Linked DNA regions of Homo sapiens: region 1 is reported to be linked to region 2. Evidence: microRNA targets listed by miRTarBase, many of them from high-throughput screens and not tested one by one. Region 2 holds a microRNA gene; the other region holds the end of a gene's coding sequence.
Evidence for each region. Region 2 holds the annotated microRNA hsa-miR-5009-5p (UUGGACUUUUUCAGAUUUGGGGAU, at 2,497-2,520, opposite strand). A microRNA usually pairs through its seed, bases 2 to 8, with sites in the 3' UTR of a target mRNA and lowers its output. Matches are read on the target gene's strand: a 7mer-m8 pairs with bases 2 to 8, a 7mer-A1 pairs with bases 2 to 7 and ends in A, and an 8mer does both.

Region 1 (5,000 bases), not on the chromosome of region 2:
TCTGGCACCCAAGCGTGCCTGGCCCTCAGACACAGAGATCATTGTCAACCAGGCCTGTGGGGGGGACATGCCTGCCTTGGAAGGGGCACCCCATACCCCGCCACTGCCACGGCGGCCCCGTAAGGGAAGCTCGGAGCTGGGCTTTCCCCGCGTGGCCCCAGAGGATGAGGTCATTGTGAATCAGTACGTGATTCGGCCTGGCCCCTCGGCCTCGGCGGCTTCTTCGGCGGCGGCAGGCGAGCCCCTGGAGTGCCCCACCTGTGGGCACTCCTACAATGTCACCCAGCGGAGGCCCCGCGTGCTGTCCTGCCTGCACTCTGTGTGTGAGCAGTGCCTGCAGATTCTCTACGAGTCCTGCCCCAAGTACAAGTTCATCTCCTGCCCCACCTGCCGCCGTGAGACTGTGCTCTTCACCGACTACGGCCTGGCCGCGCTGGCTGTCAACACGTCCATCCTGAGCCGCCTGCCGCCTGAGGCGCTGACGGCCCCATCCGGGGGTCAGTGGGGGGCTGAGCCCGAGGGCAGCTGCTACCAGACCTTCCGGCAGTACTGTGGGGCCGCGTGCACCTGCCACGTGCGGAACCCACTGTCCGCCTGCTCCATCATGTAGTAGCGCCTGCCTGCCCGCCACTGCCCGCTGAGCCTCGCTCGCTGCTTCTTCAGGGACCCGGCCCTGCCCTGCCGCCCGCTGACCCTTCCTTCCCCACCATGGCTTCCGGCCCCACCCCGAGTGGCATTGTCGCTGCAGCCAACTTTGCCATTAAAACTCTTTGCCAAAGTTTGCACCTGTTCCTGGACTGAAGCTTGCTCCTGTGGGCTGTGCTCAGGCCTGGGCCTAGGGTGGGCACCCAGGGCTGCAACCCAGAGAGGGCCCAGCTTGGAGCTGCCAGAGAGAGGCCCAGCGCTGCTCGGGTTGGGCCTGCCCTGCGCACTGGGGGCCAGGCTGGGCTGTGCATGCAGCTCAGGAGGGCCGGGTGGGCTGTGTCGGTGCAAACCCCCACACGTACAGAGTGGGCTGCTTGTGTGCGCCTGGCAGGACTACCTGGTGGGTGTGCAGAGACACCCCAGCTGGGCAGAGAGGACATTTTCAATGGTGTGGGGGTGCCTGTGTGGGGGACAACTCAGTTGATTTCCCTCCTGGTGCCCATCTGGACCTGAGCACCCACCTGGGTCTTCCAGGGTTGTGTGGGAGTAGCCTTTGGGCATGTGCAGGAGTTAGGGACAAAGACTGGCTGAAATGGTGGTAGGGGAATAAGGACCCAGCGCCTCCTGTCTGGCACCTGGACCACTTGGGTGGGAGGAAGAGCCCGCCCCAGGCTGGGTGCGGTGTCTCACGCCTGTAATCCCAGCACTTTGGGAGGCCAAGGCGGATGGATCACCTGAGGTCAGGAGTTCAAAACCAGGCTGGCCAACGTGGTGAAACCTCTTCTCTACTAAAAATACAAAAAAAATTATCCAGGTGTGGTGGTGCATGTCTGTAATCCCAGCTATTCAGGAGGGTGAGGCAAAAGAATTGCTTGAACTCGGGAGGTGGAGGTTGCAGTGAGCAGAGATCGTGCCACTGCACTCTAGCCTGAGTGACTAAGTGACGCTCTGTCTCAAAAAAAAAAAAAAAAAAAAAAAGCCCGCCCAGATGGTGAAGATGGGGTAACAAAGACAAGTAGTAACAATGGCATCCCCAGGAGCTGGTTTATTGAAAGCTGCTTCACGTTCCAGGATCAGTCCTCCATCTCTCGCTGGGCCACCTGATGTCTCCATCCCAGGTGTGGTGACATGAGGGTGTGCAGGGGCAGAGCTTATGTTCCAAGGCCTGGGTGGGCCCTTGTCCCCTGCAACACAGGCCAGCGCCAACCCCCACCTGGTCTGGGCCTGATCAAGTGGGGAGAGGAGCCTTTGCAGGCTGAATTTTCGCAGCATGGACCCCTCCCCCGGCTGGCCTGACCTTCAGGGACACACACTGGCCCTTATCTGAACACAGGGTGGGCGGAGTCCCTGCCCTCTCCAAGGAACTGACTCACTGCTGTATCTCTGTTTGCTTTCATGCCTGCTGTGCTCAGCTGGCCCTCGGAGGGGAAGTGTGGCCGGCGTCAGCCCGTGGCCAGTACGGTGCCCGTCTGCCGCAGGGTGAATGGGGTCCTGCTCACAGACTTTCCTGCTGGGCTGGCCTCCTCCAGGAGCTGTCCTTGGGCGCTGGTGTCCTTGGGTTCAGCTAGTGTCTGGGCAGCAGTGCAGCCATGGACTCTGGCAGGGTCAGGCCTCTGGGTAGCCCTGGTTGTGGGTTCAGCAATGGGAGGTCTTGATTGAAGGCCACTGCCCTGGACCCAACCTTGGGTTTTTCCAGCCTGGTCATCAGGCCTCACAGCACCCAGGCATGGGGACGTGGGCCAGTCTGGGCCCCCTGGCCTGTTGGCGGCGGGGCTGTCCTGGGCTCTGCTCAGCGGCCAGAGCGGTCCAGGAGCACGAAGAGCAGTCCCAGCAGCAGGAGCGGCGTGAAGACCAGCAGCAGCCCCAGAAGCTCAAGGGCCAGCAGGCTCAGCAGCGCCAGGCGGCGGGCACAGGGTCCCCGCTCCCGCAGGGTCCAGAGCCGGGCACCCAGGCAGGGTGGACAGGGCAGGAAGGGCAGGCAGCCCCGGCCGCCCACGGGCCCTGCCAGGAAGCGCAGCTGGTAGCGGTGCTCCAGGGAGCCCCAGGGCCCAGGGTTGCGGTGATAGGATGCAGGGGCCTCTCGGCGGGGCTGGCGTGAGGGCCCGTCGGCCTGTAGCAGCTCCTCCTGTAGCCGGCAGATCTCCCATTCCAGCACGGGCGTCTTCTGGCGGCACAGCGGGCAGCGCACCCGGCCCAGGTCGGCACTGGAGGCCGAGCCCAGCAGCCTGTGCAGGCAGCCCACACACAGGCCGTGGCTACAGTTCAGCAGGGCCAGGCGGCGCTCTCTGGGCCCGTAGGGCTCTGTGCAGATCGGGCACTCCTCCTCTTCCCCCTGCCCTGCTGCCTGCTCTCTCCCCTCCTCCTTCCAGGTTGGAAGGGCCCAGGCACCCTCCATGGCTTTGGCCCCCAGCAGGGGCTCACTGGCTGTAGTCTCAGCACCTTGGGGGTGCCCAAGGTCATCCCCTTTGCTTGCTGGTGCTTGGCACAGAGGGTCCAGGCACTCAGGGCCCAGAGAGGACCCAGGTGGACTGACAGGCCCAGAGCTGGAGTCGGCCAGGTGGAGGGTGGGGGCCCCAGGGCACAGTTCAGGGGTGGTGGCCCTGGGGCAGGAGTCAGGATAGGAGGACAGGGACCCCAGGGCGGCGACAGGGGCGGCCCTCAGGGAAGGCAGGGTCTGGGCTCCACCAGAGCTCTGGCACTGACCTCCCGGCTGGCTCTCCTCACTGGAAGTGGACTTGACTGGGGCCCCAGCAAGGCCTGCCTGCTCTGGGTGGATCCTGGGCCCACGCGGTGCTGTCCCCAGCCAGATCTGGCTGGAGCCCAGCCTCAGCCATGTTTAGTCCTGTGCCAGCGACCCGCCGACGACAGATCAAGACTCCAAGACAGCGAGGCGGGTGTGAACAGCCACCGAACTCCTCCAACAGGACTTTCCTTCCCAGTGCCTAAAGCCCCTCCCGGGGGTGGGGCTGCACAACCACGCCCCCTCCTGCCGCTCCTCTTTCCGGCAGTCTCGGCTCCCTAGCGGCACGGACGGCTTGGTTCCGCCTTCCCAGCACCTGCCCAGAACGCAGTCCTGGCGATCAGATCTTAGCCGACCCACTATGCCCTTAAGAACGAGGCAGTCAGGGCGCACATCCCATTAGAGGCAGACATAAGAGCTGCAGAGGCCACTCGGGCACAGGCAGCCCAACAAGGGTGCACCGTGGCGCCCACCCATCCAGCACCCAGCACCCAGGGCACCGGGAGGAGCTAGAGGACGCCCACCCATCCAGCACCCAGCACCCAGGGCACCGGGAGGAGCTAGAGGACGCCCATCCATCCAGCACCCAGCACCCAGGGCACCGGGAGGAGCTAGAGGAAGGAAGGAAGCCTGCGCTAGAAGTAACCACCCAGAGGCCACCATTTACTGCAAGGGTTTTTCTGGGACCAGGAGAGGAAGAGGCTGCTCTGGCCTGGGACACCCCCACTGCTCTCAAGGAGCTGGCATCTCAGTGGCCTCTGAGCCCAGCCTGAGCCCTGTGGGAGTGCGGGGGCAGTGACTGGAATGTGCTGCTGGGCAGGCTGCAGCAGCCGAGGTGGCCCCAGGGCAGAGGAGTGCAGCGCAGCCTCATGGGTGCCCTATGCCACCCCTGGTGCTCACTGGGCTGCTGATGCCGTCCTGGGTCACTGCACCGGTGAGGTGGAGCGGCCCAGGCCACCACCTTGACTGGGAAGGGGGTGGGGGGACGAGGACACAGCTCACTGTCAGGGTGGGGGAGCGCAGGGCTGGCTGGGCAGAGGCTGCAGTGGGGTCAGGCTCAAAGGGTGGGATCCAGGGTCAACAGGAGTGCGGCTGTGCTCGGGAGCTGGCTGTTCCCAGAGGACCAGCTGGCTGGTCCGAGAGGATGACGGCTGCTGGCCAGGAGCTCCCTCGTGGATGCCTTCCTGGGCTCCCAGGAGGATGGCTGTCAGAGGGGGCACGGGCAGCCGCGGGCCTCAGGCCCACGTCTCTGTCTGGAAGCGCCGTGTCTGCTGGAGCCTGGCTAGATACGCGGCTGCGTCCGGGCTGCAGAGTCCACCCTCCTCCTGGAAGATGGACATCAGGGCTTCCGAGACGTCCGCTGGCATGGACTTGGCGTTGCTAGAGGGGCAGGTCGCAGAAGGCGCAATGAGGCCTGGCACTCAGGGGCTGGGCCCACTCCTGCTGCACGCAGGCCAGCTCACCCTGCCAGGTAGAAGTATGCACCCTGGCGGTCCAGCAGTTCCCACACAAGCGACCCCAGCTCCCGGAGCCGGTGCTGCACATATACTTTCTGCTCCTGTAGGGCAGAGAACAGGGCTGGGGGCTGAGCCGGAGCTCCCTCCCCTCCTTTCCC
Region 2 (5,519 bases):
TAATTGTTAAGATGTCACCCACTACAACACACATCCAGATTTTAGAGTTATTGAAGTGTGATAAAATGCGCACCTTAGAATATACAAAATATGACATTATAAGCCAGGATCTAGATTTCACTGGACAAGTGGTTCAATTATATTATAGAAGGCTGACATGGAAAACAAAATTATAAACCCACACGTGGAAAAAGGAAGCATGATTAATAAAAATTCAAATGTGTGAGGTACCTCTACCTGGGTAGAAATTTAAAATGACACATTTCAGTACTGGAGTTACAAGGAAACAAACTTATATAGTACTAGAGGCATTATAAATTAACATACTCTTCATTTTTTTTTTTTTTGAGATGGAGTCTCACTGTTGTCGCCCAGGCTGGAGCGCAATGGCACGATCTCAGCTTACTGCAACCTCCACCTCCCGGGTTCAAGCAATTCTCCTGCCTCAACCCCCCAAGTAGCTGGGATTACAGGTGCATACCACCACGCCCGGCTAACTTTTTGGATTTTTAGTAGAGACAGGGTTTCACCATGTTAGCCAGGCTGGTCTTGAACTCCTGACCTCAGGTGATCCGCCCGCCTCGGCCTCCCAAAGTGCTGGGGTTACAGGTGTGAGCCACCGTGCCTGGCTAACATACTCTTTCTAAATATCTATCTAGCAACATGCATTATGATTAGAAATATTAATTCCCTTTGATCCAGGCATTCTGTTTTTAGCAGAATAGGCACAACCGTTTGCATAAAGACTTAGAGTAGTTTTATTCATATTAATTAAAAAAAGAAACAAAGTATCCAGTGTCTGTTATCCTAGGTGCTCTGCTACCTGAATCAGCTGAGAACACTCATTTTACCCCCCTGTTCTGCTTTGACCTACTCTTTTTTTTTTTTTTGAGACGGAGTTTCGCTCTTGTTGCCCGGGCCAGAGTACAATTTCAGCCCACCACAACCCCCGCCTCCTGGGTTCAAGAGGTTCTCCTACCTCAGCCTCCTGAGTAGCTACGATTACAGGCATGTGCCACCACACTCGGCTAATTTTTTGTATTTTTAGTAGAGACGGGGTTTCTCCATGTTGGCTAGGCTGGTCTCAAAGTCTCCTGACCTCAAGTGATCTGCCCGCCTCGGCCTCCCAAAGGACTGGGATTACCGGCGTGACCCACTGTGCTTGGCCAAAAGCTACTAATTTCCATATGTTAAACTTGTATTTAGTCACCTTACAGAACTCTATTATTAGTTCCAATTGTTTCCAACTGATTTGGATTTTCTAGATAATCAATTCATCTGTAACTATTATACATTCTGAAAACTAGTAAAGCAAATCTCCCATCACTGTCCTTTTTCCCTAGAAATATACTTCTGCATTTCTTGGCCACTCCTTTTCCCTGATAAATTTTGCCTTTACTGAGTTCTATAAACTCTCCTGACGGAATTATACTTGGTTTTCCATTTGATGTATTGCTCACCACCTTTGGGACTACTGTCATCTTTGCTTGACTCTTCCCAACAACGGGAGAGTTTGTAGCTCCATTTGTTCCAACTATTCCTTTGTTTTTTCTTTAAGATTTTATAATTTTATTGGAATCAATGTCAAGTATTCCATACCAAGTTAATTCCCAAGCACTAACTATCCTTTATTATTACTGTAAATGAGACTTCTTTAATTATGAATTTTCTAGCTGTTTTCTCAGAAATAGGAAATTTAATTTTGTTGGCTTTATCTCATATTCTGTCATTTTGCTCATATCATTTCCTTACTTATAATTCTTTAAAAATATTTTCTATGTCCATAATCCGGCCACCTTACATTGATAACTTACCTCTCTTTCTTTCTTTACTATGTCACTTCTTCATTTGTTTTTGTATCACTCACTACAAATGTTTGTTAAAATTAGAGTAAACAATAAAAGATACTCCTTTTTTTTTTTTGAGACAGAATCTCGCTCTGTCACTCAAGCTGGAGTGTAGTGGCATGAATATGGCTCACTGAAACCTCAACCCCTTGGGCTCAAGCAGTCCTCCTGCTTTAGCCACATGAGTAGCTGGGACCACAGGGGCACACCACCTGATTTTTTATAGAGACTAGGTCTCACTATGTTGCCCAGGCTGGTCTTGAACTCCTGAGCTCAAGTGATCCTCCTGCCTCAGGCTCCCAAAGGGTTGGGACTATAGGTATGAGCCACTGCACCTGGACGAAACACCCAACAAGAGCATTCATAAATGCCTACAGATTTCACCCTTGAGATAACATTGGCTCTGGTTCTTGGCTCTTGGTTTTGAAACTAAAATTGATTGCTTCAAGGAAAGTAAACTAGGTGATAAGGGGAAAGGGGAAGAAGGATATTTTTCACTATACAGGTTGAACACTTAAAATCCAAAAACCTGAAATCCAAAACACTGCAAAATCCAAAATTTTTGAGTGCCAACATGATGCTCAAAGGAAATGCTTATTGGTCATTTCAGGTTTTGGACTTTCAGATTTAGGATAAGTATAATGCAAATATCCCCAAATCTGAAAAAGTCCAAAATCCAAAACACTTCTGGTCCCAAACATTTCAAAGGGATATTCAACCTGTATACTCATAGTGTGCCTCTGAATTCTGAACCACATAACTATATTCATTTCTTCAGAAAGTAAACAGTTACATTAATAAATGTGTACTTTTAATCAAAAATGCTTCTTATTCCAGTTTGAGTGTATTTAATATAATTTGTATAATCGCTCCTCTCAGCAACTACTAATTTTTATTATATTAGTTTTTCTTACTGCTATAATAGACTATTAATTTTTCTTTGTTATACTGACTTGCATTCTTGGGATAAATACTATTTGGACACAATGTATAATTCTTCTATTTAATAGTATGCAGTTTTCCTGCTAAAGAAATAATTTTAGGGCTAGAAAAGAATATCTAGTATCTTTGTAGATTAAAAAAAAACCACTCAACACACAGAAGAGACAAAATGCAAAACAAACAAAAACCCTTAAGGCCAATAAAGCCTAGATGATTTGTTTAAGGTCACACTGCTTGTTAATGGCAGAGTCAAAAAGAAAAAAAAGGCAGGTCTCACAATCCCTTGGTTCAACTGATTGTCGGCTAAGATTTTACTTAGTAAGTAATTTTGTACCAGTACTAATACGCAATATTTGACGAACATCTTCCCCTTTTTTTTTTTTTTTGAGATAGAGTCTCACTCTATCACCCAGGCTGGAGTGCAGTGGCGCAATCTCGGCTCACTGCAACCTCCGCCTCCCAGCTCAAGCGATTCTTCTGCCTCAGCCTCCCGTGTAGCTGGGACTACAGGCGCATGCCACCACACCCAGCTAATTTTTTTTGTATTTTTAGTAGAGACAAGGTTTCACCATATTGGCCTGGCTGGTCTCGAACTCCTGACCTCGTGATCCTCCTGCCTCGGCCCCCAAAGTGCTGGGATCACAGGCGTGAGCCGCTGTGCCTGGCCCATCTTCCTTTTTAGAGTCAGGTTTTTGGATGATAACCAATTTATTCCATAAAATGCGCTTAGGTAGTAGGATTCCTTGTTCTAAGTTTTAAAAAATAACTTAATGTAACATCCAGGTTTTAATGTACTTCAACTTTAAAAAATTCTACTGTGACCCCATTAGGGAGTCAGTTCTTTTTTTAACATCTATTATTTCATCCTAATATTATTTCAGTGCCTTTATGTTGACCTCATTTGGGCAGTTTTTTGTTCTTGTTTTTTTTTTTGAGATAGAGTCTCGCTCTATTGCCCAGGCTGGAGTGTAATGGTGTGATCTCAGCTCACTGCAACCTCTGCCTCCCAGGTTCAGGTGATTCTCATGCCTTGGCTACCCAAACAGCCAAGCAGCTGGGATTACAGGCATGTGCCACCATGCCCAGCTAATTTTTCTATTTTTAGTAGAGACGAAGTTTCACCATGTTGGTCAGGCTGGTCTCAAACTCCTGGTCTCAAGTGATCCACCCTCCTTGGCCTCCCAAAGTGCTAGGATTACAGGCATGTGCCACTGCCCCAGGCCAGAGCAGTTATTTTTGTAGTCGGCTATTTCAAATATATTGGTAGTATAACTATGTATATATCATCCCTTTAAAACAATGTTTTCTATTTCTGACTTCTATCTTCTTTATATCAATTAGGCCAACTATTTATTAATTTTTATTGTCTTTTCAAAGATCAGATGGGTCCAGTGGTTCACACCTGTAATCCCAGCAATTTGGGAGGCCAAAGTGGGAAGACTGCCTGAGCTGAGATGTTCGAGACCAGCCTGGACAACATGGTGAGACTTCATCTCTAAAAAATTCAAAAAATTAGCCAGATGTGGTGACGCATGCCTGTAGGCCCCATTACTCAGGAGACTGAGGTAGGAGGATGGGTTGAGCCTGGGAGATGGAGGCTGCAGTGAGCTGTGATCACACTACTGCACTACAGTTTGAGAGCAAGACCTTGTCTCAAAAAAAAAAAAAAAAAAAAAATCAAACTTTTTAGTTCCTATTATTTTTACATTTTACTTATCTGATCTTACCAAATCCAATGTACAATGTACACTAAATATTTAATAAGTGTCTATTAAATTATAAAGTTAGAGGCCGGGCGCAGTGGTTCACACCTGTAATCCCAGCACTTTGGGAGGCCGAGGCGGGCGGATCACAAGGTCAGGATATCGAGACCATCTTGGCCAACATGGTGAAACCCTGTCGCTACTAAAACTACAAAAATTAGCTGGGCATGTGCCTGTAATCCCAGCTACTCGAGAGGCTGAGTAAGGCAGGAGAATCGCTTGAACCAGGGAGTCGGAGGTTGTGGTGAGCTGAGATCGTGCCACTGCACTCTAGACTGGCAACAGAGCAAGACTCCATCTCAAAAAAAATAAATAAATAAAAAAGTAAAAAAAGTTATAAAGTTAGTCTTTTTGTATTGTTAATACAAATCTCCAAGGTCCATTTTCTCTAATAACTGTGGCCCAATTTTTTTTTCTCTTTTAAAAAATTTTCTTTATTTTTTATAATATGGAATGCTTCACCAATTTGCATGTCATCCTTGCATAGTGGCAATGCTAATCTTTTCTGCACTGGTACACTTTTAGAATATATGCTGCTGAGGCAAGCACTCCATCCCAATTTTTAAAATACATTATCACTATATTTCCTTAATTTTCAAATAAACTCGTATTATGTACACATTTCTATAGCCTGCTACATACAGTTAACAGTACTATAAAGCACATTCTCACATTTGAATTCTACAACCTAATATCACTTTTCAGATGGTAGATTCATGACCCAAACCCAGATTTTCTGATGCTAGATCTTGAGCTTTTTTTCTTTTTTTGAGACAGGGTCTCACTCTGTTGCCCAGGCTGGAGTGGAGTGGCACAATCTTGGCTCACTGCAACCTCCGCCTCCTGGGTTCATGCGATTCTCCCACCTCAACCTCCCAAGTAGCTGGGAGTACAGGCATATGCCACCAGGCCCAGCTAATTTTTTGTATTTTTAGTAGAGACATGGTTTTACCATGCTGACCACGTT

Region 1: the mRNA of NDOR1 is a reported target of hsa-miR-5009-5p. Seed matches in the 3' UTR shown: 7mer-m8 at 3,376-3,382.

What each region holds. Positions count from the first base shown.
Region 1 is chr9:137,216,037-137,221,036 of GRCh38, reverse strand. NDOR1 (NADPH dependent diflavin oxidoreductase 1) reads right to left here. Exons shown (of 14, transcript NM_014434.4): 13 at 4,849-4,943; 14 at 1,676-4,765. The coding sequence ends at 4,621. RNF208 (ring finger protein 208) reads left to right here. Exons shown (of 2, transcript NM_031297.7): 2 at 1-778. The coding sequence ends at 610. LOC122513141 (ring finger protein-like) reads right to left here and starts at 3,543. Exons shown (of 1, transcript NM_001395982.1): 1 at 1,676-3,543. The coding sequence starts at 3,040. The coding sequence ends at 2,435. RefSeq lists enhancers at 1,613-2,352, 2,353-3,092, 3,093-3,832 and a silencer at 3,496-3,673.
Region 2 is chr15:89,881,491-89,887,009 of GRCh38, forward strand. It overlaps MIR5009 (microRNA 5009), which reads right to left and starts at 2,540; the gene lies at 2,441-2,540. The region is part of intron 7 of ARPIN-AP3S2 (ARPIN-AP3S2 readthrough); the gene reads right to left. All of the region lies in intron 3 of AP3S2 (adaptor related protein complex 3 subunit sigma 2), which reads right to left. It also overlaps the pseudogene RNU6-1111P.